Linked DNA regions of Homo sapiens: regions 2, 3 and 4 are each linked to region 1. The links come from fine-mapping of genetic effects on gene expression. A gene starts in region 1. Each other region holds a variant in brackets. All regions are shown on one strand. Distances are from middle to middle.

The links. PIP is the estimated chance that this variant, and not a neighbour inherited with it, causes the effect. A credible set is the group of variants that fine-mapping cannot tell apart.
Region 2: its variant is the best candidate, but not a certain one, in a credible set for the expression of GLYATL2 in whole blood (INTERVAL, PIP 0.52).
Region 3: its variant is the best candidate, but not a certain one, in a credible set for the expression of GLYATL2 in whole blood (TOPMed, PIP 0.89).
Region 4: its variant is the best candidate, but not a certain one, in a credible set for the expression of GLYATL2 in prefrontal cortex (BrainSeq, PIP 0.85).

Annotation. Positions count from the first base shown.
Region 1 is chr11:58,840,405-58,848,313 of GRCh38, forward strand. GLYATL2 (glycine-N-acyltransferase like 2) reads right to left here and starts at 4,300. Exons shown (of 6, transcript NM_145016.4): 1 at 4,030-4,300.
Region 2 is chr11:58,804,169-58,812,077 of GRCh38, forward strand. No RefSeq gene overlaps it. Among named protein-coding and RNA genes, the nearest start is that of GLYATL2, 37 kb to the right of the region's middle. The variant T/C (reference allele first, on the strand shown) is at 3,275.
Region 3 is chr11:58,666,401-58,674,309 of GRCh38, forward strand. No RefSeq gene overlaps it. Among named protein-coding and RNA genes, the nearest start is that of CNTF, 48 kb to the left of the region's middle. The variant G/A (reference allele first, on the strand shown) is at 4,589.
Region 4 is chr11:58,902,979-58,910,887 of GRCh38, forward strand. It overlaps a transcript of GLYATL2 not described here and a transcript of GLYATL1 not described here. Among named protein-coding and RNA genes, the nearest start is that of GLYATL1, 33 kb to the right of the region's middle. RefSeq lists an enhancer at 2,406-2,905. The variant G/A (reference allele first, on the strand shown) is at 3,906.

The DNA.
Region 1 (7,909 bases):
ATGATCAAGTTAATGATGGTGTATCCAAATAATAGATTACCAGGCAACTATCAAAATGATGTCTTTGAAGAGTGTTTAATGACATAGGAAAACGTCTGTGTTACAAAGTCAGGAAAACATATGATGTAATCCCAATTAATAATATAAAGATGCAGGCCAGGTGCAGTGGCTCAGCCTGTAATCCCAGCACTTTGGGAGGCCAAGGCGGGCAGATCACAAGGTCAGGAGTTTGAGATCAGCCTGGCCAACATAGTGAAACCCCGTCTCTTCTAAAAATACAAAAAACTACCTGGGTGTGGTGGTGAGTGTCAGTAGTCCCAGCTACTCAGGAGGCTGAGGCAGGAGAATTGCTTGAACCAAGGAAGAGGAGGTTGCAGTGATCTGATATCGCACCACTGCATTCCAGCCTGGGTGACAGTGTGAGACTCTATCTCAAAAAATAAAATAAAATAAAATAAAATAAAATAAAATAAAATAAAAATTAAAAAAATAATAATATAAAGATGCATAGGTGAATGGTTATCTGTGTATATGTACATTTGCATATACCCACCTGAAAGTCTTTCTGAAACAAAGTAGTATATAAATAAGATATAAATATGAACTTTTGAACTTTCTTCCAGCCATATACACGGCTGACAATATATATAAATATGTAATACCTCATATGATACTTGAAGACAATATATAAGAATGGCCATATTTTCCAAGAACCAACAAATAGAAAATTTTCTACACTATTTTGATGGTTTGCAAGGAAGCCATTAATATTTTTTGCAATCCTAGAAAACTCAGTAAATATGACATCTATGTATGCATGTATATATGTAAGTGTATAGCCATAATCAATACAAAAGGAAGCACAGTGGTTAACAACATGGGCTTTGGAATTAAACAAACCAAAACTCCACCCCTGGCTCCTCCTCTGGCTATCTGGGTCACCTTAGGTAAGTCAAATTATTTGAGTCTCTGCCTCAGTTGCATTATCTATAAAATGGGGATAGTAATATCTACTTTGTAGGTTGTCATGAGGATTTCATTGCCAGAAAAGGTATGTGAAGTGTTTAGCATGGTGGTAATTTGTGTATATACAAGGTTCTGAAGGACATTTTAAAGACCTCTAATCCAGTGAAGGTGACCATTCCACCGGACAGAAACATAAATGAAGAAAACTGCAACTTCAAAGATGGACTACATGTAACTTGCTTGAATAAATCTATTGACACAAAATAGATATTTTGAGGCAAACCACAGATCTAGAAAAAGCTAATGTGTTTCTGTCACTGTCTAGGATGATGGGTGCACTAACCAAATGGCACAGCATTCTGCCCATTCTGCAGGCTTTGGTAGCATATTCCACAAAGGAGAGCAATCAACTTCAAGGAAAGAGCGACCAAAGCAGTCAAAGGCTGCTGAGAAGCTAAAAGATATGAGTACTAAAGATGGCAGTGCATTTTGGAGTTAGGAGTTGATTACTGACTTGGTAAGAGATGTGGAATGAAACGTGAGGAAGTGAAGGTAACTTTTTCAAAGAGCTTGACCAGGAAAGGAAGAAGAACATGAGAATATCGAAGGACAGAGGAGAGGTACAAGAGCTCAAAAAAGGCATTTCTCTTATTAGATGAGAGTTAAGCATACCTATACTAACTACAAGAGGTAAGATGTAAGTCATTAATAGGCCAATGTGTAAACAGGACATAGAAAGGTGACAGAAATTCATTGACCTTATATACAAAATGCCAACCCTATTTCAGCTTCTTTATGTTGATTAATTCATGTAATCGTCAATGATAATTCTCAGCATACTTGTGAAATTAAGTTTTGGACTGGAAGAATACTTCTTTCAGTGAAAAGTCAGAAAAAAAATTAGGATGGATGCAGATGCAGGTGTATGTATGTACGTATACAGCAGGTCATCAAATAATGTCATTTTGTTCAATATCTTTTCATTACAATGGTGAAGAGAAAAACATCAATTCCTGGCTGGACTACTGTCTATGTGCAGTTTGCCTGTTCTCCTCATGTCTGCATGGATTTTCTCTGTCTAAATTGTCCCAGGATGAGTGAGACTCTGTGTGTGTGTGTGTGTGTGTGTGTGTGTGTGTGTGTGTGTGTGCGCCCTGTGATGGAAAGGTGTCCAGTCTGGGGTGGGTTCCTGCCTTGTGCTCTGAGCTACCAGGACAGGCTTCAGTCACTTGCTCCCCTGAACTGGAAAAAGCCAGTTGAAAAATGAATGAATGAATGAATGAATGAATGAAACATTCATAATAAAACAAAAATTCATGAAGTCTATGATAATCATACAAATGAATGACAATAAACAATGCTGTGCCAAAGGACTCAGTGAGGCCACCATATTTGTGATTGAATTTTAACTTCATAGAGGCAAGAGGTGCTCCTTACAACTTTTGCTTTGCAAACATTTATTTCTCAATTTAACCCACCACTACTGTGACCACCATCACACAGACTCACCAAAAATTAGGTAAATAATTATCTTGTTTTTATTAATATTTATTAAATGTATACGCAGTTTCCATTTAGTTCATTGTTTTATATTAGAAGTGTTTGGGTTCTTTATTTATAAGTTTGGTGATGTTTTTGTGACCAGAAATATGCTGTAGGAACTTAACTCTTCTTTATACTAATTAGCTTATGGTAAAATTAATTTTGTTATATGTTGTTTCATTTGAAATTGCAGTTTCCAAGAACCTATTGACAATGTTAAGTGAGGACTAATTTTATATGGGAGTACACAGGGTTAGAAAAAAAGAGCAGAGAGTTGGCAAGTTATTTTTGAATGTCTGTTTCCTGGAAGAGGTAAAATTTTTTCCTATTTCCAAAATCACTTTTTAGCAGTAAGTGGGTGAGGGAGTATGCCAAGAAAGTGTCGAGAAAAAGAAGTAGGATTTTATGGGAAACAGTTAGGGTTTAAATGGCTTTTGATGTTAATGGGAGAAAGAGTGGACTAGAATTAGCAAGGACTAGCAAGCATGCTTAGGATAATGTAAAGATGGACACTATGATTTGGAAGTGTTACTCAACAATATATTGAGCTCAGCTCCCTGAGAGTAGAAGCAGAGAAGACAAATTAAAACAAACCAAGGTTGGTTTTTTCAGGGCTGGTGTAGCAAAAAAGATAAGGTACAAAGCATTTGAATATATAGAAATGAGAGATTGAAACTTACAAACTGTAGCATCCAGGAGAGAGAAGAGAAAAAGTAAAGTAGGTTGGAGACCAATAAAGTAAGAAAATATAGAAAAAGCCATGGAAGAAAGTACTTGATGAAGTCAAAGAATAGCAATGTTAATAGACAGGGAAAAATGTACTTAAAAATAGGAGATTGGGATCAGATATTAGACTATTAGAGGTTAAGATGTCAGAGGCACTCAGAGGTAGATCAGTTTGGGATGTAGGGCTGTTGGCTTCAACTCCAAGTCAACAGAGTAGGAGCCAAGAAGGGAATGGGAGTTTCAGGTACCACAGACATGAATAGGATGTAGCAGAAGTTTGTTGGAGAGAAACATTAGGATACCAGTTGCCAAATGTTTCAATGAATGGAGAGAAATTTGGCAGAGGGCAACAGAAAAGCATTGTTTTATTCTAGCCACATGACACAGAAGGAAGAAGGAAGATTTTTCTATGCAAATAAACCACTAATACTTTAGAAGCAGGATTGGAGGCAAGGAGAATATTGATTTTTTTTTTCTGCTAACAGTATTACTATGGAGATCTAGAGGGTGTCAGAGAAAGGTACAAGCATATTGATAACTTATAATTCAAGGAAAGCATTTGGACATTTTACAAATTCAAAAGGATACGCACTGGCTTTTTCTGAAGTATTTCCAGTTTCAGGTACCTAAAAGGTTTTGAAGAATTCATTCTCAACATTGAGACCCTGGGGAGTGCTCTTTCCAAGGGTTTGCAGGGGAAAAGAAATAAATTAACAAATACAAATGATTTAGAACAAGAATCCAAATTAATTGAACTGCCAAGATAAAAAGGCTGTTCTAAATAATTCTGCTTACCTGAAGTTTCTTTGTAGACCTGTAGGCACACTGCCTGCTGCAGTTTCTCAGTATGGCAATGGAAAGGTTTCTGTAGCTAATACTCTACGGACTGAAACACAATAAAATTCAACTGACTCACGTTGTCACTGTTAAGCATAAAGCTTCAGGAAGTTATGGGTTCCTGTAGATTAAACCAGACGTTCTGTCCATAGACAAGAAATCACAGGCTTTGTAGACCAGAGGAGGACTGAGAATATGTTCCATATTGAGCAGCTTCTACAATTCTAAGAAGTTTTACTCAAGAAGCTTTTGATTTATATATAACCTCTTGTAGCTGAAAGGCTATTCTAGAACAATATTAAGTCAATTTTCCATTGTTGGCAAAAATAGCACAGCTGCAGCCTTATTTAAATGATGTCAGTAGAGCAAACAAAGAGTTGGAAAGTTTGATTTCAATGCAAAATACTTGGCTTAATACTTTCAACCATTTGTGGCTTGGAAAAAGCCAAAAATGCCTCAAGGAAGTTACTGTAATAATGAGAACTCAGTTTCATATACCTTGTCCTCTGGTTGTCTAAAGTGGAGCAACAGGGAGGGGCATTGTAAGTTTAAGAAGAAAAATCAATTACTGGAGAAAAGTTTCAGGGGGACTGGAATTAGCTTTGTAGTGGAATAGAGACAAACATTGTTTTTCAAAGTGTGTTCCTCACACCACCTCCTTCAAGATCAATTAGGCTTGTTTGTTAACAATACAAGAACTTTTCCAGATCAGGTAAATCAGAGGCTCCCAGAGTGCCTGGCAATCTGTATGTTATAAAAAGCTATCTAAAAGAATCTGATCAACATTACATTTTGAAGACATTGAGATTAAAACATGGGAAAATATAAGTTATAAAATTTTTATACTGGGTGCAGTGGCTCACATCGGTAATACCAACTACTTGGGAAGCTCAGGCAGGAGGGTCGCTTGAGGGCAAAAACTTGATACAAGCCAGGGCGACCTAATAAAACCCCAGTCTTTAAAATTTTGGTTTTTAATTAGCCAGATGTAGTGGCATGTGTCTATAGTCCCAACTACTCAGCAGACTGAGATGGAAAGATTACGTGAGCCCAGAAACTTGAGATCGCAGTAAGCTATTTCACCACTGCACTTCAGCCTGGGGAACAGGGTGAGATACTATCTCTAATTAAAAAAAAATTCACCCACTTTCTGGAAGTGAAAGAAACTTCACAAATTGTAATCATTTATAGCATGAGAAAAGCAAGAGTTATTTTTACACAAATAAGGAAGCTGTTGCTGAGAAAAAAATAAATGTCTTCCCCCAGGTCACAAAACTAACCAGTGGCAATGTCTGGAACATGAGGCCAAATATCGAATTATTTTAATGACACTATGATTCCATAGAGAGTGATTCTCTACCCTTAGGCAGTTTATATCTTCTTACAAACCTAAATCATCTACTCCAGATGACATATAAAAATTATCAGTGATAATTTAATACTATCTACACATTCTTGCTATGTAAGGCATTGAGTTTTATAGTTTTAGTTACTCTACTTTTTGAACCAAAAGTGGTTCACATAATCTATCAAAGAATTTTACATATTCATAATTGTAAACGATTATTTTGTTAAATACATATCAAAGTTTATAGAGTTATACAGTAAACTAATCATCCTTTTTAAAAAATGGTCCATTTCAACTAGTCAATACATATGTTTTATTCCATAATTGACAGCAAACTGTGGATAGTTGAGAGAACACATATTTTTTTTCTATACTGAGTATTACTTAAGTAATTTCTTGAGCCATTAAATTTTTTTTATATAGTTTATAATGGGGAGGAGAAGCAAAGCAAGTGGCAGAATAGAAGGCTCCACTAATCATTTCCCCATACCCCACAAGGCACCAACTTAACAACTACACAGAAAAAAATACCTTCATGAGAGCCAAAAATCAAGTGAGCACTCATAGTACCTGGTTTTGACTTCATATCCCTGAAAGAGGCACTGAAGAGACAGTAAAAAACAGTCTTGAATCACCAATCCCCATCCCTCCCAACCTCAGTAGCAGTAGTGTGGTGCACAGTATATCTCTGGGCACGGGGGTAGAAAGAACACAGCAATTATGAGGCATTGAACTCATTGCTGTCATGTTAGACACAAAGGAAAACTAGACCAAACTCAGCTGACACCTGCCCATGGAGGCAGAGGGAGCATTTAAACCAGTCCTAACCCGAGGGGAATCACCAATCCCAGCAGTCAAAACTTCAGTGACTGAAAACCTCACCACAGAGGGCCTAAAGTTCTCTGTGTTTCCAAGTAAACGTGAAAGGCAGTGTAAACCATAAGGACTGCAACTCTTAAGTGAGTCCTAGTGCTGAATTAGGCTCAGAAATTGTGGACTGGGGGGACACTTGACATACTGAGACACCAGCTGGGTCAGTCAAAGGAGAGCTGGTATCACCTCTTCCCTAACCCCAGGCTGCATAGCTCACAGCTGCTAAAGAGACTCCTTCCCTCTGCTTGAGGAATGAAAAAGAAACAGTAAGGCGAACTTCATCTTGCATCTTGGATATCAGCTCAGCCACAACAGGATAAGGCACCAAATAGAGTTGTGAGGCCCCCGTTCCAGGCCCCAGCTCCCAGACAACATTTCTAGACATTTGCTGGGCTGGAAGGGAACTCTCTGCATTGAAAAAAAGGATCCAGTCCTCACAGCATTCATCACCTGGTAGAAGATACCCTGAGCCCTGAATAACCTACAGCAGTACCCATGTACTATTAGTACATTGAGGACCTTGCGTGAGCATCTGAGGATAGCAGGTTTCAGGTGAGACTCAGCACATTTCCAGCTGTGGCAGCTCTGGGGCAAGATTCCTTCTGCTTCAGAAATGTGGAAGGAGAAGTAAAGAGACTTTGTTTTGCACCTTAGGTGCCAGCACAGCCACAGCATGGTAGAGCAGCAAGTGGGCTCTTGACATCCCCAATTGCAGGACTTAGCTCTTGAACAGCATTTCTGGACCTTCCCTGGGCCAGAAGGAAGCCCACTGCCCGGAAAGGTGAGTCCCAGGCCAGGTAGACTTTACTACAAGCTGATTTAAGAGCCCTTAGGCCTTAAGAGAACACTGGTTGGTAGTCTGGCAACCAGTGGGTAGGGGTGACTATGTGGTGAGACTCCTCTGTCTTTGGAAAGAAAAGGCAAAAGTGGGAAGAACTTCATCTTGTGGTTTGAACCTCAGCTCAACTGCAATATAATAGAACACCAGGTAGCCCTCTAATGTTTTTGACTCTAGTCCTTGACTTCTGGACAGCACATCTGTATCTCAGGGCCTGAGGAATCTCACTGCCCTGATGGGAAGCACACAGGCCTTGCTGGCTTTGCTACCTTCTGATTGTAGAGTTCCAGAGCCTTAAGTGAACATAGGCAGTAGCCAAGGAGTGATTACAGCAGGCCTTGGTCAAGATGCAGTGCTGTGCGGACCTCAGGCCTGATCTAGCACAGTCATAATGGCGGTGGCCACAGGAGTGCTTATGTCACTCCACCCCCAATTTTAGTTGGCTCAGAACAGAGAGAGAGGCTTTTTTTTTTTTTTTTTTTTTTTGAGAAAGTAAGGGAAGAAAACAGAACAGTCTCTGCCTGGTAATCCAGAGAATTCTCCCATATCTTCTCCAAGACTATTGAGGCGGTACCTTTATGAGTCTTCAAAAACCACAGTATTACTGGGCTTGGGATGCTCTCTGAAGTAGAGACAGCTTAAATCATGATACCTACATCTTTTCAAATATCTGGAAAGCCTTTCCAACAAGGATGGCTACAAATAAGCCCAGACAGTGAAGACTAGAGCAAACACCTAACTCTTCAGTGCTCAGACACTGAAGAACATCTACTAGCATC
Region 2 (7,909 bases), 36 kb before region 1:
TTATTTTCCATAAAATATCTTATGCTATCACAAAAAATGTAATTTATGTTAACATTTAATTAGTTGATTCTTATTTCTAATAAACATACTGTTTAGAATTATTAGTTTTATTTTTTAATATTGTAAATTTTGACAGATGTACACTTTATTAGTCAGTGTTCTCTAAAGAAACAGAACCAACAGGATGTATCTAGTAGATATATCAGAGAAGATTTATTATGGGAATTGACTCACTTGATTATGGAGGCCAAGAAGTCCCACTACATTTTGTTTGCATGCTGGAGAATTAAAAGAGCTGGATAGTTTTTAAGATCCATCTCAACTCAAACATCCAGAGCTGTGTCTTAATATCTCCCAAGCTTCAACCTGCATATAATACTTCTCATTAATTTATCAGACAAAAGCAAGGGGTGTGTATGAGAGAAGTCCTGTGATAAATACTCTTTTCTTTGACTGTAATGAATGAGAATAATTTGGGGGTCCCCAAATGGGCCAACCTGAATTGGGGTACATTTCCACTGATGTCAGTCACAAGGATCAACTTGGAAACCCAAGCATTTCCTGATCCTTAAGATTTATTCATTTTCTTCTGCCAGATATCCCCATAAAATAGAGTGCCCTGCTCAGTGAAAGGTTTCATTTTATGCCCTTTGGCCTGCCCTGAGAAGCCCTGGAGGTGGAAGTTAGGATGGGTGTAAGCCATACTCACTTCTCAAGACTGTTCCATCACACACCAAGAGACAGGGTATCTTTTTGTGCTCTGTAGAAAAGTGCTGAATGCATCACTAGACACAACTCAAACTCTATTTATTCCGATCATGTTTCCAGTTACTTTTCACCACCCTTGCATAGGGGGCCTCCAGCAAAGACATCTTGATGACCAGATTTGATCGACAAAGAAAACTTCCCATGTGATAACTAGGTGACATAGAGATTAGGTTAGAACATTTGGCTTCTGGCTCATTCTGCCATATATCTTGTATATATGCTTAAAAGTTCCCTCTCATAGCTCAATTCCATGAGCCTCTATCTAAAGTCAGCTGTAGTCTCCAACTCATACCTCAAACTAGTTACTCATAGGCCACTCATAGTCATAACATTCCAAACCTGCCCATGCCCAGACTTCTTTCCTTCCTAACACGCTCCAAAGGAATCCACCCTCCTCATGCAGTTTTACCTCTTTTAAACAGAGCAAGCTATTTACAGTAAACAGAGGTACCCAAGATCTGTTCTCACCTCTCAGTTTTCCATCATTTGGGCTGGATACATCAGAATAGGTTCTAAACTTGGTTTGTGGTGGGGCGAGGGAGGGGGGATTCAATTCCTGAGTTGATTTGGTTGCCATCTAATAAGAAGTAGGTCGCTCATATATCCACCTGCGTTAACTTTAAAGTGGAAGTCCTCTTTATCACCTGATCCCAATCCCCCTAACAACCCTGACAGATAATAACAATAAACGATAATGTGTACCATTTATTGACCATTACCATGTTATAGGCACTGTGAGAGAAACACTTTGTATGTGTTATCTCTTTTAGTCATCATTGTAACTCTAAGAAAGATTCTCTTATTGTCCATTCTAAGATGTATTAACTCAGACTTAAAACAGAAGAGCCAGAATCCAAAGCAAGGTCTAATTCCAAAACCTGGATGTTAATCCCTGCTGGACTGAGTCTCAAAATGAGGAAAAAATGCAGGTTAGGTATTAATTCAAGACTCTTCTCTGTCCACACCCCCCCACACACACACCTACAGCTATTTTATAAACCAAGAGTTTAATTTTAGGATATCTAGAAACGTTTAATAATAAAGTTCAGCCCAATTGTCCCAGATTACTGTAAGTGCTTGCCACCACCCACTCCAACACACAGCTATTTGCTCTTTGCCACTTGCCTTGTCTTAATACTCAAGACAAAGTTGAATATAGGTATAGATAGAAAGGTGTTCAGTGAACTGAGAGGACTGGCACTAGTCAAAAATTCAAAATACTTTACTTTTCTTTGTTATGTTCCCTTTCATTTCTGAAAAAACCATCCTGTCCCTTTCTTCTGCTTTTTTTCTCAGAAATCTTTCCCTGTCTTCTTGTTATCTAAAGTGCACTCCATCATGGTCCACAGTGTCCCACACTCCAGATTTTCTCTAGCTACCCAAATCATCCTATACACTATATTGTAGGAATGCAAACTAATAACACTACACTATTATAATAAATTGATAATGCAGCTGTTTGTTTCTTACTAATAGACTTACCTGTACCCCTTCCCCCATTCCTTATGCTGTTTTCACCAGCTGCTATTTCTACAGCTTTAAATATTCTTAAAGGCGTATTTTGTTTCTTTCATTCATTTGGTTTCTATTGTTATAAAGAGACATTATTTGACACAATAAACTCAGGGACTCTATTCATTTTTACATTCTTCCTGGAATGCTTATAATCTCAATTGTTTGAGCATTTGGATATTGGATTCACCTGGCCAATGTGCAAAGCAGAGGTAGTAAGGAAATGGGCAACTGGGATAATTTCTGAGGGGCCCTAACAACATACACACTTTAAAATACATGTCATATCACTTGTTGCAGATTTATTTCAACATTAAACTCCTCCATATAATGTCAGCCTTTATAGTCTAGAGCACACGCAATCCATTCACAATCCACAAAAATTTGAACAAGGGCTGAGACTGAGACAGAGGAGATTTTTTCATCCATCTTTTCCTAGTTACCTAGGATTTAGAAGGTATATTAGGGTTTTCCAGAAAACAAATTATATAATTCACACACACACATACACACATCTATACCCATACTTTGTGTTGAGTATTAAGACAAGGAGAGAGGCAAAGAACAAATAGCTGTGTGTTGGAGGAGGTAGTGGCAAGCACTTACAGTAATCTGAAATAAGGGGCTGAACTTTAAAAGTTTCCATATATCCTAAAATTAAACTCTTGATCCATAAAATAGCTGAAAGTGTGTGTGGGATGGGGGCAGAGAAGGATTTTGAATTAATGCCTAACCTTCCTCAGTGTGTGTGTGTTTGTATGTGTGTGTGAATTATATATTCTCTTTTCTGGAAAACCCCAACATAATTTCCAAGTTTAAGGTAACTAGGGAAAGACGGGTGACAAAAAATCTCCTCCATCTCAGTCTCAGCATTTGTTCAAATTTTTGTGGATTGTGAGTAGATTGCCATGTGCTATATGGCAATCCAATCACAATCTCTGTGTGTGTGCTTGTGTTTCTGTCTATCTCTCTCTCACACACACACACACACACA[T/C]ACACACACACACACACACACAGATTATAGGAACTGGCTCACAGTATTATGGAAACTGAGAAGTTTCATAATATGCTATTTGCAAGTTGGAGGAAAAGCCAGTGGTGTAACTCCGCCCAAGTCCGAAGGCCTGAGAACCAGAGAAGCCAATGGTGTAATTCTCTGTCTGACTCCAAAGGCCTGAGAACCAGGAGTTCCAATGCCCAAGGGCAGGAGAAGAGAAATGTTCCAGCTCAAGTAGAGAGAATTCACTCTGCCTCTGCCTCTTTGATCATTTCTGTCCTAAATGGATTGAATGATACCCACCTACATCAGTGAGGATGACTCTTCTTTATTCAGTCTACTGATTCCAAAGCTGATCTCTTCTGGAAACATGCTTATGGACACACCCAGAAATAATCTTTACCAGCTCTCTGGGCATACCTTAGCCCAGTCAAGTTGATGCATAAAGTTAACCATCACAGAAGGCTTGGTACCAGTTGATGACCCTGAGAAAATCAAGGATTTTCTGGAGTTTTTGAGATGTCCTGGTGAATATATCATAAATGGGGTATAGTGGTCCAAGTTGTCTATCATCTCCTGTATGGAATGGGCAAAGAGTAAGGAGATGTAATTGTTGCTTCTCTCTCACTCCTACATCTATACATCCAAGTCTGTTCTTGTCTTTTTCAGCCACACAGCTAAGATTTCAAGCAAAATCAACATAAAGAGATTATAGAGAATGAACTTTGTCTAAGAAGACAACACTTCTACTCCCAAGTCTCAGATCCTAAAACACTACCTGTTGCATTGTAGGTGTGCAACATATATTTGTTAAATAAATTTAAAATATTTACACTAATAATAACTGCCATTTACTAGGTGCATGTTAAGTACTTGGCAATGTACTGAGCAACTTATAGACCAAATTACATCCCAAGGAGTAAAATTCTCATTTCACATTTGAAAAACTTGAGAAACAGAAATGACAAAAGACTATCCAAAGCCCACACAGCTTGCAAGTGTACTTGAGCCCCCACTCACTCTGACTTAAATAACTTGTCTCAATACTCCTGTGTCCACCTAGGCTACAGGAGACATCTCCTTCTTCATCTCTGAAATGAAATTTTTTTCCACTTTTTTCACAATAATCATACCTTCAGAGCTCTCTCTCTCTCTCTCCTTGCTTTGTTTCTTCAACTCCCAAATATTCCTGTCTCAGGCAATATATTATTCCAATCTTACACCTCTACACAGAAATACCTGAGACTGGGTAATTTATAAGGAAAAGTGATTTAATTGGCTCACTATTCCACAGGCTGTACAGAAAGCATGATTCCGGCATTGACTTGGCTTCTGTTGAGGCCTCATGAAACTTAGAATCATGGTGAAAGTCAAAGGGAAAGCAAACCACTCACATGGCCAGAGCAGGAAGAAGGCAGAAAGGGGGAATGTGGCACACACTTTTAAACAACTGGATCTCATGAGGTCTCACTCACTATCATAAGAACAGCACCAATGGGGAAATCCACTCCCATGATCTGATCACCTCCCACCAGGCTCCACCTCCAACATTGGAGATTACATTTTGACATGAGATTTAGGCAGGGACACAGATCCAAACCATATCAGGCAACAACAGCAAAAGTCTTTCCTTAATTTTTTGCCCTTTTTATATCCTTTCAAAGCCAAAAAGACAAAGGTCTTGAGTGTTCTAACACACTCTCTCCCCAGTGCCCCACAATTTGGTTTCTGTACTTTTAATTTTGCTGAAATTTAGTTTTGGGGTATTAATCACCAAAACTTTTTCTTAAGTTCATTTTGATATTTTGCCAAATGATCTGTGAAACACTTGGCCAAATTTCCCTTAGTAGCCCATTAATTTATTCTATATTTAATAATTTTTCCCCTTCTCTTTGAAAAAAAGGAAATAAATTATCACTATCATATTCCATTCTCAAGTAAGTCAGATGGTATTATCTGTGAACCTTCTGTGAAGTAAATACACAGAGACACATAGCAGGTCTCCTAAAGTGTTTGTAGAAATTGATGGGTGAGTTTTAATTGCACCAATGCAAGATTGACTCTCAGTCATTCACAAGTAAGACCAAAGAAGAAATGGCAGATACCTTCAGCAGCCATTGGAAACATCTCAAATATCTCCCAGGCAGCAAACAGAGGTTGACAGCTTTAGGGTTCTAGGTTTGCAAGAAAATTGTTTTACAGTCCATATGAAGGGTCTAAGATACATCCATCCATCCTCAACCCTCCCTCTTCACCTACCTCACATCCAGGGACTCAGGAGTCTTGTCAAGGACTGGTGTGATTTTAGTAGAACCCTAGAGTCATGCAAAAGGTGCATTTTTTATGACAATTCGGTAGTTTTGTACCTTATTTTTAAAGAAATTGTATTGAGTTTATAATTATGTGTATCTATGGTATAAAATGCAATGTTATAATATAATATAGCATTATATATGTTATAATGGTCTTTTTGGCATTGAAAGGATATAAAATGTGGATGGATTTAATCAAGCTAGTTAACATATCAATCACCATACATACTTATTTTTGTGGTAAAAACATTTGAAATTTACTCCCTTAGCAATTCTGAAATATACAATAAATTATTAACAATAGTTGCTAGGATGTAAAATGGATGTCAATGACTTGTTTTTTTCTGCTGCACTGAAACTTTATCTTCTCTTACCAATATCTCCCCACTCTGCTGTCCCTACCTGCAGCCTCTGGTAGCCACCATTCTACCCCCTACATCTAATAACTTTAACATTTCACCTGCAAGTGAGGACCTGAAGCATTTGTCTTTCTGAGCCTGGCTTATTGTACTTAACTTCATGTCCTCCAGGTTAATCCACGTTGTCTCAAATGACAGCATTTCCTTCTTTTTAAGGCTATATGGTATTCCACGGTGTACTATATGTGTACAAAACATACCACATTTTCTTTATACATCATCCATTGATGGGTACTTAGTTTGATTCCACATCTTTGCTATTTTGAATAATGCTGTAATGATCATGGGAGTACAGATAACTCTTTAACATACTAATTACATTTCCTTTGGGTATATAACCAGTAATGGTATTCTATATTAAATTATTACATCTGTTTATATCACCAGTCTCCCTTATGAGATCATCAGCTGTTGGACTGTTCTGTTCATCTTTGCATCCCCAAGATCAATCATAGTATCTGGCATTAGCCAGAATTTGGGACTTATTTATTGAATGAGAAGAAATATGGATGAGTAAATTACTTAACTGAGGAGACCCTATGCTTCTGTAACCTGAGATGGTCAAGATTCCAGCACCCATCATGGTAATAAAGAAAAATATCTTTGGCCCCTCAAATCATTAAGCAAAAGGGAAAAGTCAAGCTGGGAACTGCTTAGAGCAAACCTGCCTCCCATTCTATTCAAAGCCACCCCTCTGGTCACTGAGATAAATGCATATCTGATTGCCTCCTTTGGAGAGACTCATCAGAAACTCAAAAGAATGCAACCATTTGTCTCATATACCTGTGACTTGGAAGTTCTCTCCCAACTTTGAGTTGTCCCACCTTTCCAGACATAATCAATGTTTATTTTACATATGTTGATTAATGTCTCATGTCTCCCTAAAATGTATAAAATTAAGCTATGCTCTGACCACTTTGGGCACATGTTGTCAGGTCCTTCTGAAGCTGTGTTACACATGTGCATCCTTGGCAAAATAAAATTTCTAAATTAACTGAGACCTGTCTCAAATTTTCAGGGTTCACATTTTGGTAACTATGAAGGGATTCTGAGTGGAGGTGTCGCTGAACTTTGAGAAATCTCCTCTCAGTGCCAGATACCAGCATGAGCTAACTTTATGACTCAAACCAACAGAACAATTTGCTGAGGTCTGAGAGAACCCCCTTCAGAGAATCCTTAATCTCCTCAAATTTTGTTTAGATCTAAAGTTTATTTTGCCGTACAACTCCCTCTTTTATTGGAGTTTTACTTGATTCCAACAAGAAAGACAAGTTTTTCTACTTCCATGATGATGGAAGGTGGGTAACTCTTTTGTGGAGTTTGAGCTCACTTCTGACAAGGAAGATGAGGTTTTTTTTTTCTGCTTCTAGGATGGTAGACAGCTGTCTTCAGCCTGAGACTCATCCTTAGGTAAGTAGCTAAATTGAGGTTTTGTCTTGGCTAAAGTTAACAACAAGCTGGTCTTAATTTCTCCTTATCATTAGAGCGCTCAGTAGTCATATAAGTTGTGCAATCATTTGTTTGGCTTAACTTTTTGTTGTCGTTGTTGTTGTTTGTTTCTGCTCTTGTCGTTGTTCCAGTCTTTTTCCCATTAAGTTTGATTGACTCTATCTGACTTGATCAAATCTGAAGGAAATTCCAACTTATGGGGAATAAGTCCTCTGAAGTGGCTAAATTCCCCTAAAAAAAGAGGTGTGTGTGTGTGCATATGTGTATGTTTGTATTTAAAAGGCCTTCAAGTTTTTATTTTTGTTTTTCTTCTAGGAACTTGTCTTTTTTTCAGTACAAGTTTTTTTCTTCTCAGTTGACTGAATTCTGTTTTCTTCACTTACTTTGGCTGTCTCTCTTTTCTCTGGCACCCTCTGCTGCATGGGGGACCTCAAATAGTTTATAATATCCTG
Region 3 (7,909 bases), 170 kb before region 1:
CTAGGATATTACAAATTATAGCCCTGGGATGTGCACACATGGTGAACAGCATAGTAATATTAGGATTAACATCTGGGTAGAATATTACAAGAAATATCACAGGGGGTGTACGCACATGGTGTACATGCCCGGTGACATTAGGAGTAACATTTTCCTGAAATATTATGAGTAATATCACAGAGTGTACACCTCCTGTGACATTTGGAGTAATGTCCCCTAGGATATTCCAAATAATATCACAGGGCGTACATTGCCTGTGACATGAGGAGTAACATCTGCCTAAAATATTATGAATAATATCAAGGGAGAACACCCTGTGTGACATTAGGAGTAACATTCCCCCAGGATATGACGAATAATATCAGAGGATGTACACACACTGTGACATTAGAAGTAACATCCATTTAGGATATTACCAATATTATCACAGTGTGTATACCTGTGACATTAGGAGTAACAATATTGGGAATAATATCACAGGTTGTACAACCCCTGTGACATTAGTGATAACATTTCTTTAGGATATTAGGAGTAGCATTTCCATAAAATATTATGAATAATATCACTGTTTGTACAACATGTGTGACATGTACAATATCACAGGGTGTACACCCCTGTGACAGTAGGAGTAACATCCCCCTAGGGTATTACTAATAATATCACTGGGTATACATCCTCTGTAATATTAAGAGTATCATATTTCTAGGATATTATGAATAATATCACAGGGGGTACAAACACTGTGATATTAGGAGTAATATCTCCTTAAGATATAAGCTACAATATCACAGAGTGACACTAGGAGTAACATCCCTCTACAATATTGGAAATAATATCACATGGTGTACACCCCCTGTGATATCAGTGGTAACATTTCTTTAGGATATTACAAATAATATTACAGGGTGTACAGCCCCTGTGGTATTAGGAGTAACAGTTCCATAAAATATGATGAATAATATCACTGTTTGTACAACATGTGTGACATTAGGAGTAACATCCCCCAAAGCTATGATGAATAAATTCACAGGGTGTACACTCTCTGTGACGTTAGGAGTAACATCTTCCTAGAATATTACAAATAATATCACAGGGTGTACACCCCCTGTGACACGAGGAGTAACATCTTTCTAGGATATTGTGAATAATATAACAAAGTGTACACACTTTGTGAGGTAGGAGTAGCATACCCCTAGGATATTGTGAATCATATCACAGAGAGTAAACCCCCTGTGACAATAGGAGCAACATCCCCTTAGGATATTACGAATAATATCACAAGGTGTACACGCATTGTGACATTAGTAGTAATAGCCCACTAGTATATTGTGCACACCCCCTTTGACATTAGGAGTAACATCTTCCTAGTATATTACAAAAAAATTACAGGGAGAACACCTCTGTGACATTAGGAGTAACATCTCCCTAGGATATTACGAATAATATCACAGGGTACACCCCCACTGTGATATTATTTGTAATATCCTAGGGGGATGTATCACACCCCGTGTGACTTTAAAAGTGACATCCCCCTAGAATATTATGAATAATGTAACAGGGTGTACACCCCCTGTGACATTAGGATTAACATCCCCCTAGGATATTAGGAATAATATCAAAGGATGTACACCCACTGGGATATTAGGAGTAATACCTTCCTAGGACATTACTTATAATATCACAGGATATACCCCCACTGTGATATTAGGAGTAATATCTCCCTAAGATATAAGGAAGAATATCACAAAGTGTACACCTATGGTGTACTCCCACTGTGATATTAGTCTCAATACCTCTCTAAAATATTATAAAAAATATCACAGGGTGTACACCCTCTGTGATACTAGAGACAATATTTACCCTGGATATTACAAATATTATCAAGGGAGTATACACATGTTGTACACCCACTGTGATATTAGGAGTTATATTTCCCTAGGATATTACAAATAATATCTCAGGGGGTACACCCACTGTGACATTAGGAGTAACATATCCTTAGAATATTAAGAATAATATTGGGCCAGGTGCGGTGGGTCACGCCTGTAATCCCAGCACTTTGGGAGGCCGAGGCGGGTGGATCACGAGGTCAGGATATCGAGACCATCCTGGCTAACACAGTGAAACCCCATCTCTACTAAAATACAAAAAATTAGGCGGGCGTGGTGGTGGGCACCTGTAGTCCTAGCTACTCGGGAGGCTGAGGCAGGAGAATGGCGTGAACCCGGGAGGCTGAGCTTGCAGTGAGCCGAGATCACGCCAGCCTGGGCGACAGAGCAAGACTGTCTCAAAAATTAAAAAAAAATAATAATAATATCACAGGGTGAACACAGCCTGTGACATTAAAAGTAACATCAGGCTAGGATATTACAAATAATGTCACATTGTGTACTCCCACTGGGACATTAGGTGTAACATTGCTCTAGGATATTATGAATAATATCACAGGGTGCACACCCACTATGACATTAAAAGTATTATCTCCCAAAGATATTACAAATAATATCACAGGGCGTACACTTACTATAATATTGAAATTAATATCTCCCTAAGATATTACAAAAAATATCACAGTGTTTGTACACACACTGTAAAATTAGAAGTAATAGCTCCCTAGGATATTATGAATATTATCAGTGTGTACATCCAGTGTGATAGTATAAAAAATATTTACCTAGGATATCATGAATAATACCACAAAGTGTACCCTCATGGTGTACACCCACTGTGATATTAGGAGTAACATCTTCCTAGTATATTATGAATAATATAACTGGGCATAAACCCACAGTAATATTAGGAGTCATATCTCCCTAGGATATTACAAATAATATCACAGAGTGTACACCCACTGTGATATTAGCAGTAACGTCCCCCTGGGATATTACAAAAAATATCACAGGGTGTACACCTATTGTGACATTAAAAGTATTATCTCCCTAGAATACTATGAATAATATCACAGGGTGTACACCCTCTGTGAAATTAGGAGTACTATCTTTCCAGGATATTACGAATAATATTACAGAGGGTGTACATTCACTGTGACATTAGGAGTAACATCCCCCTAAGATATTATGAATAATATCACAGGGTGTACACCAACCGTGACATTAAAAGTAACATCCCCCTAGGATATTATGAATAATATCACAGGGTGTACTCCCCATGTGACATTATGAGTAAAATCTCCCTAGGATATTAAGAATAATATCACAGGGTGCACACCCCTTGTAAAATCAGGAGTAACATCTCTTTAGGATATTACGAATAATATCACAGAGTGTACACCCATTTTGACATTAGGAGTAACATCCCCTTAGGATATTACGAATAATATCACAGGTGTGCACTCCCAGTGACATTAGGATTAACATTCCCCCAGCATATTACAAAAAAGATCACAGGTGTACACCACCTGTGACAGTAGGAGTAACATCCTCCTAAAATATTATGACAAATATCACAGATTGTACACCCCCTGCGATAGGAGTAACATACACCTAGGATATTACGACTAATATCACAGGGTGACCACCCCCTGTGACATTAGAAGTAACATTCCCTAGGATATTGCAAATAATATCACAGTATGTACACCCACTGTGACATTAGCTGTAACATTCCCCTAGGGAATTATGAATAATATCACAAAGTGTACACTTACTGTGACATTAGGAGTAATATCTCTCTAGACTATTACTTCTAATATCACAGGGTGTACACCCACAGTGATATTAAGAGTAATATCTTCCTAGTACATTACAAACAATATCACAGTGTGTACACACAAGGTGTACACCCACAGTGATATTAGAAGTAATATCTCCCTAAATATTACAAATATTATCACAGGGTGTATATCCAATGTGATATTTGGAGTAATATCTCCCTTGGATATTACGAACCATATCACAGGGAGGTGGACACCGCCCGCAATATGGGGAGTAATGTCACCCTCCTCTCCCCTGCTGGATATTATGAATCATATCACAGGGGGGTGGACATCCCCCACGATATGGGGAGTAGTATCACCCTCCTCTCTCCCCCACTGGATATTACGAACCATATCACAGGGGGTTAGACACCGCTCGCGATATGGGGAGTAATATCACCCCCCTGTCCCCCCTGGATATTATGAACCATATCACAGGCAGGTGGACATCCCCCGCGATATGGGGAGTAATATCACCTCCCTCTACCCCCTGGATATTACGAACCATATCACGGGGGGTTGGACACCCCCAGCGATATGGGGAGTAATATCACCCCCCTTCCCCTCTCTGCTTTTTGCAACCAGTCAGAGGTACTTTCAATTTCCAATTTGCAGTGCAGAAAATGTGGCGGTTTGCAAAGGGAGTAGCCTCTGGTGCTTTTGTTTCTTAGGTGTGGACAGGTAGGATTTTCCTTTCAATTTAGCTCTAGGAAGTCAGCGTGAAACGGCCTTAGGTTACCTACCTCCAGACCCTATTCTCCTGCCTCAAAAGGATGCAATATAAAATATTGCTACAAGCCAAGCTGCTGTTCGTGTGTGATGTCTGCACAAAGACTTTCCTACAGGTGTATACATTCAGGAAGTGTATCACCC[G/A]TGCACCCTAACTGAAAAATTGAGTAATGTTATGTTCCAGTGTAATGAGAAGTGAATCAAAATAAAGAAATCAAGAGTTGGTAAACTATTAAGGAGATAAATATTAAAACCAATAAAATAGAGAATTAAGCTTAATTTCGTGTTTCAAATATGATAAAATAGAATGAAAGACAAAAAGTAATTATTGACAAAAATGATACGTAAAAGTAAAATTTCAGGAATAATCTGGGTTCAAAAATCTCATACTGCAGTTATTGGAAAAAATGATTGACATTAAATTGGTCTAAACTTTGCTGGGTTTGTTATTTTACATGTGGGAGTGTGCATAGATACTCTTATTTTCTTTTGTTAATTAGAGAAATACAGCCATAAGCATATTGCTGAAAAATTAGCTAAGAATTAAAAATATAATGCTAAGCCCCCCACCCAACTGAATGGACCCCTTCTTGGCAAGGGGACCCCAGAGAAACCTTAAAAAAACTTGAGTTCCTGGCCATGACAGGGACAAGAGGTCAGGCACACCTCATTCTATGGGCTCCCTTTTCTGGTTTAGACACAATAACCATCAACATTTATGTTAAAATAGAGATCATAAGACTGACAAAACAAACTCTTTGTGGCAATTAGATACAAAATTATAAACAGGACCTAAGGACATATCAGGCAAAGGTGAAGTCAAGCACTCCTACACTTAAAGAATAAACTATGGGCCAGGCATAGTGGCTCATGCCTGTAATCCCAGCACTCTGGGAGGCCGAGGCAGGCAGATCACCTGAGGTCAGGAGTTCAACACCAGTCTGGCCAACATAGTGAAACCCCGTTTCTACTAAAAATACAAAAATTAGCTGGTTGTGGTGGCGGGCGCCTGTAATCCCAGCTACTGGGAAGCTGAGGCAGGAGAATTGCTCGAACTGGGGACGTAGAGGTTGCAGTGAGCCGAGATTGCGCCACTGCACTCCAGCCTGGGCAACAGAGTAAGACTCCGTCTTAAAAACAAAACAAAACAAAACAAAACAAAACAAAAACAAAAAACCAAACAAACAAAAATCTATGTTCTAACTGTCACAAGGTTTTTCCTTTTCTCTAGCAGCTGAACAAGCACTGGCCTCAAGATAAGCAATATGGAAACAATTGTAGCTCCTTCATGCCAGAAGCCGACAAACTGACCCTGCATAACCACAGCTTTGATTGAACAAGTGACTGATTTCCATAGCTTTTTTCTGATAAGACACCACTGACCCCGTAGGCTGGTTCTGGCTGGTCTTGCAGAGGCTGTGCATTTTAGCACCTTCCAGTCCCTGCTTCACCTTCTGAATAATAGGGCCTAATTGTAATAGATTTAAATGTTAAGTCTCCACCCCGAGGTGAACATGGGATGCATGTATCATGTACGTTTGCTTACCTTGTATGCATGCAACTCACTTTCGTTAATATTTATAGCTCCCCCTGTATCCTGTTGAATATGTATACTCGGCCTACCCAGTCAGCATTGATTCCTGTCTTATCCCTCTCTCCCTGGAAGTGCTTGCTTTTGGTATTTCAGCCAGAGGCTGTGCTCCCTGCCTGCAGGTTGTAAATTCCTTAAGAAATAAAGCTCTCCTTTCTAAGTTTCTAAACTTGTGATTTTTAAGCTAACAGTGCTAATTAAATTCAAAACAAAATTTGTGACTTCCAAATTACTTAAAAAACAAAAAAATCTAGTGGGAGGATTGCATTGGGTTTTCTTCTCTTCACCTCCCGCCATGGCTAAGATTTTTCCTTCCTTAGACTTTCTCTGTATAATTAAACTCTGGTCATCAGTAGCCCACTGAGCCCCTCTTCATCTAAAGCATAACTTTTAAATGCTTTTGTGCAGTGGGCCGCTTGACAGTCTGGGGAGGCCTATTACCCCATTCTCAGGATCACGAGTCATGAATGGGGGAAATAAAACACAAGGAATATGAAGGAAACAAAATTATATTGACATATAGTTATCTGAATATCTTAAATTAATTACATCATATCTAGCTGCATCTAGCTGCAAAGTCTCATATTTAATGAGTTCATTATACAATCATAAATTAAATACTTTCAATATTATAAGAGTAAATGGTAGTTCAGTTATTCTCAGCTATAATCAGATATGAAATTTTCTCACTACCATCTTGATGAAGTCAGGGATAATGGAAATCTCTGGTAGTTTGGTACATACATTTATAATTGAAGAAAATCCTAAATTATGGTTGGAAGTTAATAAAAATAAAGATACGATTTTTCTTCTCTTCAACTTTAGAGAGCCCTTGAATTTAAACGAATGCCCAGGCAGTCTGTGGACACAGATGAAATGTCCTTGATCTAAAAAGCTTCATTTCTCTTCAGCGAAAGTTCTCCCCATGAAAACAGGGCTTCTAAAACTGCCTTCCCTCAAAGGCTGTACAAACATGCATTCCTGGCAATAACCTAGAGGAGTGCCCATTTCTCCATACTCTCCTTTATAGCAGATGCCCTCAAATGTATTCACACTTTACCAATCTAAAAAGAGAGAAAAAAAAGGTAATTGCATTGTAGTTTTATTTTGCTTTTTCATAATTTCAAGATTTTCATTCAGCTTTGGTTTCTAATTTCTTTTTAATTACAGATTTTTTTTTTTTTAGATGGAGTCTAGCTCTGTTGCCCAGGCTGGAGTGCAGTGGCACAATCTTGGCTCACTGCAACCTCTACCTTCCGGGTTCAAGCGATTTTCTTGCCTTAGCTTCCTGAGTACCTGGGATCACAGGAGTGCACCACCATGCCCAGCTAAATTTTGTATTTTTTAGTAGAGACAGGGTTTCACCACATTGGCCAGCTGGTCTCAAACTCCTGACCTCAAGTGATCCACCCACCTTAGCCTCCCAAAGTGTTGGGATTACGTCCATGAGCCACTGCACCTGGCCAGAAAATCTTTATATAACATGCATATTATAGAAAGTTCCCACATTCCCTAGGTAACTGTCATATCTGCAAAATATATAAATTGTATAGAAAAATTTAAAAAATTCATGAAACTAAAATAATTTTACTTTTCACTGCATTTTGACTAATTCATTTCTTCACTTAATAAATATTGAGTAATTATATACCGGAAACCTTAGTAGGCACAAGATGGGAATAGTGACCCCAAACTATAATTTTCAGGCACTTTCCCCTCCCCACTTGAGTAATTCAGTATCAAAAACCTCATTATCATTCTCTGTGTGTTTGCAATCCTTGCAAAGGGAGGGTTGCATGTATGCATGATAAGCACACATTCATGATACACGTGTCCCACGTTCACCTTGGGGTGGAGACTTAACATTTAAATCT
Region 4 (7,909 bases), 63 kb after region 1:
GCTAGAGCTCTACTCTGGACCTATAGCTCTAGGTAGTTAGTTTCTCTGTGAGGGTCACTTTTATACTTAAGGAAGAAATGGAAGATTGGTACTAAAAATGACGTCAGGTTACTTATTCCAATTGTGTGGTTCAGCTGTTACTCCAATGATGAGCAAATGAAGAGGAATTAGAAGCATAGCTATTCCTAGGCTCAAGGAGCAGGGAAGCTCTGGAATTGGTGTACAGCAGTGCTGCTTGGAGTACCATTACAAAGGGACAAGAGTGGTTCAAGGGGAGGTAAAATACAGGGCACCTAAGACACAGGGAATCTGGGAAACAAGGCAGGATTTTGTATTTATCATTTGCCATGATCTCTCTCTGTGAACTTTCTTCTCCCTTTTAATTTTCCCTGTACTTTAATTATATTTCTCAGGCCTGGTGCAGTGGCTCATATCTGTAACCACAGCACATTGGAAGGCTGAGGCAAGCAGAGCACCTGAGGTCAGGAGTTCGACCCCAGACTTGCCAACATGGTGAAACTCCATCTCTATTAAAAATACAAAAAGTATCCGGGCGTGGTGACAGGCACTTGTAATACCAGCTGCTCAGGAGGCTGAGGCATGAGAATCACCTAAACCCAGGAGGTTGAGCTTACAGTGAACTGAGATTGTAACACTGCACTCCAGCCTGGGCAATAAAACAAGACTCTGTCTCAAAAAACAAAATAAAATAAAATAAAATAATTCTCAGTTAATGGCCAACATTACCATCATAAGTCCTAGTTTCCCTCTCTTTCTCCTTTTGTGTGTCTTTTATTTTGATCTATGCTCTTCTCTCCCAAGTTCAGCCTCTTGCCCCTTCTTAAGGCTCTCTGGGCATTCACCCGCATGTGTTGAGTGTCCACTTCTCTCCTTATTTTTCAGTTGGAGTGGATTAGTATCTCCAAGTCAATATATCAAAAGTAGAATTACTGACACACTCATCACTCCTGGCACACACAGCATCTCCTTCCTCAGACTTCCCCATATCACTTAATGCAGACTTTATCTTTCTAGTTGCTCAAGTCAAAAGCCCAAGAATCATATTGAGCTCTCTTTTTCTCTTATTTATGGAAAACCCCATTCACAAGCCAATTCCATGGGCTCGCCCTTCAAAATAAATGTGGAATTCAGCATTTTCTAACACCTCCACCATTACCGTCTGAGGCTGGGCTCCGACATCTTTGCAATCCTGGGATATACTCTTAGCCATCTTCTCCCTTCCACACCTCCTATTGTCCTCCTAGAGTTTGTCCCCCACGCAGCTGCCAGAGAGATTTTTAAAAATATGTCAGGTTATATTACTCCTTGCTACAAATCCTCCATTTAAAATAAATTTCATATTTATAACAAAATCCAGACTTCTTCATATGGCCGACCAGGTGCTTTATGCTAATGGAATGTGCAGATGCTCCTCCCTAAGGAGCACTTTTTTCCAGGGAAAATTCTCTATCTCCAGTGATGTCAGAAACTTTCGACAATACTATTCTCTACCACCTCTTGCTTTTAACAGCTTTTTTCCTCCAGATTCTACAATGAAAAGAAGATCAAGTCTCCTTGTGCAATGATTTACTCTCCGATGCATATTAGTGCCAGTCATGTGCACTGCTTTCAGATGATTCAAGAATAACAGCGATTTGAGAAAGCTGTCTTTACGTTTTTCTCTTCCCTGTTTCTGTTTGATATTATTTTTACAATTACACTTCTAAAGTTTGCTCTTTCCAAACACCACAAGACCCGTGTAATTTAAGTGATTTCAGGAGTCTCTGTGTATTTTACATTAAGTTCAGAAACATGCTCATGATTCCACCAAAACTATCAACTTTTACATAAACATCTGTCCTTCTATGAGTTACAAAATAATTTTCACCATCATCTATTAATCCACCATCTTCTCCCCTTCTTTGACCAACTTCTCAAAAATAACACTCAATACTGAAGGCATCTCCTTCTATTCATGTTCTTAGACAGTAAGACGTTCTGTTCTTAAACAGTAAGATGTTTTCTCAAGCCCCATGCAAAGCACTTACTTGATTATCACTTTGGAGATACCCAACTCTGGAGTCTTCATCCGAAGGGTAAAGTTCCACACCCAGTAATGCGCCTCCTGGGAAACAGGCCTAAATACTCTTCATCTGAGGGGTAAAGTTCCGCACCCAGTAATGCGCGTCCTGGGAAACAGGCCTAAGCAGTGCTGGCCCCTTCCTCGTCCAGACTGGCATTGTCTGTGTTCGCCAGCCCCTCCACGAAGTTGGATCATTTGCGGAGCAGGCCAAGTCCCTCTAGACCTCACGCAGACGCGGGTGCAGCCTGCTCTGCGACTTGCAGTCAGCTGGAAGCTGGGCCTCTGCATCATCAGGGTGGAGCTCTCTCTGCTGCTGCCGCTGGATCCCGCCTGGATGCACGTCCCGCCACCGCCGCCGACCCATCAGCGGCAGAAGGGCAGCAATGGCCACACACCGAAGCACCTTGGCGGGCTATTCCCCTTGCAGCTCTCCTCAGCGCGCTGCTCCCACTCGCAATCAAAAGGCGGAAAAAGCGCGAAACCGCCAGGCATCTCCCATACCCACCCGGCTGCCGCGCAACCCCTCCTTGGCTTCCACTGGGAGACAGGGGACGCCGATGAGCAGGAAGAAGCAGGGCAGTGACTGCTTAGTTTATCCTGGTACGCGGGAACTGGCTGTGGACCGAGTGGTTCGGGGGAGGGGATCGCTGGGACCGGGATGGGTCATCTGGACAAATAGGGAGGGTGGGCGGGTGGGCGCGCAGTCCCCTCGGCCTGGCCGTCTGACCCGCCCGCGAGCGCGTGCGCCCAGGCGTGCACTCTCATCCCTTTTCCTCTCTTCAATCACTGTCTGGAGTGATGCGAATTAGCTTCCAAAGTGGATGAGAGGATGAATCATTTCCATCCAATGAGAGAAAACAGCCTCCAGAGACTCTTCGTCCATTGGCCAGCGAGAGTGTCAATTCCCAGGCTCCCTCCCGCGCGCCAGCCTGCTCTTCCAGGCGGGAAAAGTTCAGCTTAGACAGGCAAGAGAGAAGTCTTCCCAACACCTGCGAATCGGGAGCAGCGGGCACTAGCACGTGCACTGTCTGGTCAGGCTCGCCGGTTCTTTGAGTGGTTTTTCTGGTTCTGGGTCGGACCCGGAGTTAGGTGGATGGCCGGCAGGGGCAGTAGACAGAAGGATCTCAGCCCAAAACCAAGGAGGTTTTGGATGGGGAGCTGGGCCCCGCCCGTTGTGGTAATTCCCTTCCTGCCTCTCAGCTTCAAAGGCCAAGAGTGTTACTCCTGAAAAGATACATGGAGATCGTCTGGGTGTTCCTGAATCTCAAGAGTGTCGTTTGACCCTGGTGGATCCTTTCCTTCCCTGGTGCCCTTTGCACCCATAGAATGAGACCAGGTTCGGTTAAGCAGAGCAGAAACTTTATTCACTGATCAGGGAATGGAACAGGAGAGCTCCTGTTCAAAGTTCCTGGGGTGTAGTGAGGGGGTGCTTTTTAAGGTCTTTTAGGACTCCTAGGTGGAGACTGAGGACAAGGATTCCTGGAAAGAGGTGGGGCTTTCCAGGAAGACCTGAATGTGGCAGTCTCATTCTTTCTGTTGCACCACAGCACTACATGTGCCTAGCAAGGTGCATTTCTCCCCGGGGCAGAGATTTAGGTATGGTAATTAGCAAAGATTCATGTTAGGGTAGCGCTGCTGAGCTCTTTCCCATCTTGTAGCACGGTGGTTACTGACATCCAGCCTTTGTTTCTGTAAGCAAGCACAGCTGCAAGCACAGGTTACCTTCATAGGTTCTGGAGTTTTAGGAAAGCATTGAGGTCATTCTGTGGCCACATAGACGGTTGTTTAAACAACGCGGTGCTCATTTGAGGCGGGGGTTGTG[G/A]GATGAGGCAGGTAAAAGTGCAGATTCCATAGCTACACCCCGACATACTGAATCAGAGTCTGTGAAGGTGGGATGTGGAATCCTTTTTTAAAAAGCTCAGAGGAGCCAATTCACAGGAACAATAAAAGGTTGATCTGAGCCAAACTCCTTAATTTAGAAATGAGGAAATGGGGATCCCTAACAGAGGTACAGGGAGAGGGTTGGAGGAAAGTTACACCATAATAGTTTTAGGGTGGTTCTTTCCTGGCCTTGGAAAGTTTTCTCAGCCGGGGCTCTGATCAGTACACAGTTGAATACTTTAGGGGAAACCTCTTCATATATCCTGAGTTTTCTGTCTCTCTCTCTCTGCCTCTGCAGGTCACCCGCCAGGTTTGTGGCCTGTGATCTCTTGTCACCTTGGTCTCTCAGCTTTGTCTTCTGAAATCTGGACTTCCAATTGTCTTTGTCTTGCTGCCCTTCCTTGCGACACTGGCCTGGAATCCCTCACGGTAGTCTGCTGGAGTGGAATTTAGGACGCATCTCAGTTGTCACCATCTTTAATTGCATGATGTCTAGTTCCTTGCAAACCATTATTTCATGTATTTCGCTCTTTTTTGTTTGTTTTGTTTTGTTTTGTTTTCAGGCTAGGGGAAAATCCAGTCCCTGTTACTCCATTTTGGCCAGAAATTCAAGGTAATGACTTTTAATGTTCCTGACTACTAGTTCTATCATCTCTCTCACTTCTGGATCTGTCTCTATTCACTGATGTTTCTAGTCATTGTGGGTCATATTTTTTCCACGTTTTAAATACTTCCTGATTTTTGACTAGATATCAAGCTTTGTTAATTTCACAACTTTGGGTGCCAAAAATTTTTACATTCCTATCAATATTCTTGAGCTTTGTTCCAGTACGTTGTTATTTTACATGGAAACCATTTCATACTTTCAAAGCTTGCATTTATTTGTTAGGTGGGACCAGAACAAGGGCTAATGTTGTCCCACTATGGAAGCAATACTTTCTGAGTAGTCTCCCTGATACTTCATGAATTATGAAGTTTTCTAGTCGGATTTTGGGGAACTGAAACCATTTTCTGTCCTGTATGAGCCTCAGAAATTGTTACATCTGCTCCTTTCCGATAGTTCTTTTCCTGTTCCTTTTCAACAGTTTCATTATACTCATGCATTGACCAAGCTGAAATCTCAAGGGTTGCCCACTGCACATCTCTGATCCTCTGTGCTCCTGTGGCGCTCTTCATCCTAGTACTCTGCCATACAGGCTCCAGTCATCTTGGCCTCCCACAACTCCCAGCTTGTCTTCTCAACTCAGGGAAACTGCCAGGTTCTGCCTGTTTCCCCTCCCTGAGATATGCCTTGGAAATGCCATACAGTAAGCTAGATAGCCATAGGGGTTACCGCATATGATTTTCTTCTCAGATATCAGAGATGAGATCCCACACAGCCTGATGTCCAGTGTTTGAAAGTGGTTATTTCATAGATCTTGTTTTTTTGTTTTTTTAGACATTTAAGGTGGCAGAATAAATTCAATCCTTGGTTCTCCATTTTTTCCACTAGTAGAAGTTAGTTATATTGTCTTTGAACTCATCATGAATTCCATGAAGACTGAAGGGAACAAGTCATTTAGTGCTACAGAGGATGACCAGAGGGCTAGACCTGAAGTTTCAAAGGCATATCTACTTTTTTACAACTCCTCACTGGAGAGATAGTCTAACCGTGGTGCCAATTCAGATTCTTGGAGATAAATTCCTAAAGAATAATAGTTATAAGTCCTTATCTTAGGCTGTTTAAAATATATTTGGGGAGCTCATACACATAAGTGCTTGTGTAAAGCAAAATGATAGGGTATGAGTTAACAATGATAAACATGTCTTAAGACAACAAGATGAGTAACAAACAATATGGACACTTAAAATCATGGAAAGTACACACAGGCAAAAATAATTAGCTAATGTTTCCTGAGGAAACACTGTGTGCCTAGAATTGTGTTCCATCATTTGAATTATCTCATTTAACACTTAATATTATTATGCAGTAGGTAATATTATCATCCTTATTTTCCAAAAAAGAAACTGAAGCTCAGCTTCCTTATAGTTGCAGAAATAACGAACTTCAGAGCAAGGATCTGAACCCAGGCCATCAGACTGCAGAGGCTGGTTTTTGACCCACACTATTTTGTTCAAAATATGGAAAATGATAATACTAAATTGAGACATAAACAAGTGATTTTAGAGTACAGAGAGAAGAATTCTTAATTCAGACTTAAGAAATTAAAGCAGTGTCATATGAGACAGATCCTAATGAATAATAAATCTAAAATTGTCAAACTCATAGATGTAGAAGTGGTTGTCAGGGGCTGGGAAGAGAGGAAAACAGAGGTATTAGTCAAGGGGTACAGAGTTTCCTTATACAAGGTGAATAAGTTCTCAAGATCTGTACAGCATGGTGCCTATAGTTAACAATATTGTATACTTAAATTATTGCTAAAATGATAGATCTTATGTTAAGTGTTCTTATTACAAAAGTAATAAATGAGGGCAGAATGGATGAGACTTTTGGAGGTGATAGATAGGTTGATGTCATAGATTCTGGTGATAATGTATCTCCACACTCATCAAGTTGCATACATTAATTATGTACATTAGTTACGCATTCTGTATGTCTAAAACTAATTTATTCTTTTAAAAGAATGAATAACATTTCACTTGTGTATCAAGGATGAAGGAATGGCCTGAATAAAGTCATGTACACGTGAAAATATATTTGGCGAATAAGACAGCTGCATTTGATGGTATATAAGGAGAATTCAATAATGTAGTAGGCAAATAATGCTTTCTAGACTGGTAAGGTAGTGTGGTGCCAAGATCTCAGAAGGCTTTCTATCAATAAGAGCTCTCCATATTGCTGGTAAAAATATTTTCTAATAATGAAACAATAAAATGGATTCATTTGTTCACATGAGTGGATATTCCAGAATTCAGCAGAGCTCTTAATTCAGTTTTATACAATTTCTTCAACGGCTTGTTTGTGTGTTCGGTCTCTATGTTCTGCTTTTCATATTATTCCCTGGCTGGCTTCCTGCATAGTGGCAAACAGAGCTGCAGTAATATCAGATGTTTTATTCTCCCAATAATGAGTCTATCCTGGTTTTCTAAGGAAACTTCTCTTGCCATCTAATTGTCCCAACTTAAGTAGCTCACCCATTCCTGCACAAAACCCTGTGACTGAGAGGGCACTTACAGATATTCTTAAACTGGCATGAATTTATTTCCATACATTATGGCTCCTAAAAAGTGGGAGAGGGGTAGAATAGCTTTCTGGAAAATAGCTGCAGTATCTTTTCCTTCTTTGAATTCCATGTGTAGGTTTCTGGATTTTCTTCTGTAAATAAAGGAGACGTGTTTACAGACTTTATCTTTGTATTGCTTAGGAGGAGTTCTTCAACTCACTTTAGACTTTGTTAAGTTAAATATTAATGATAAAATGCCTAGGCTATTTTGTTCAAGACAGTTGCCATAATCACATGTGATTATTTAAATTAAACTTAACTAAAATCAAATAATGAAAAAGGTGAATAATACAAATTCTCATTTGCACTAATCACATATCAAATACTTAAGAAATACATGTGGCTGTGGTATTAGACAATACAGATGTAGAACATTTCCATCACTGCAGATATGCTATTAGGTAGTACTAGTCTACGGCATCCACTTATAGAACAGAACTAGAGTGTAAAACTGCCAAACTGTTTGTGGAGAAAATAGAATGAGAGGGAAAAATGATGGAGGCAACAAAGCAAGGGAATAAAAATTTAGAAACAGTAGAAGTTACAAAAAACGATGATAGAAATGAGCACAAAAATCCCCATGCCCAATTGATTGTCTTACAGATTATTTGAAAGACTTTAACTTTTATTGTTTCGTTTACATTTATTTATTTCATAGTAAAATTCAGTCTTCTGAGTATACAGTTCAATGGCTTATGACAAACACCTACAGTCATGTAAC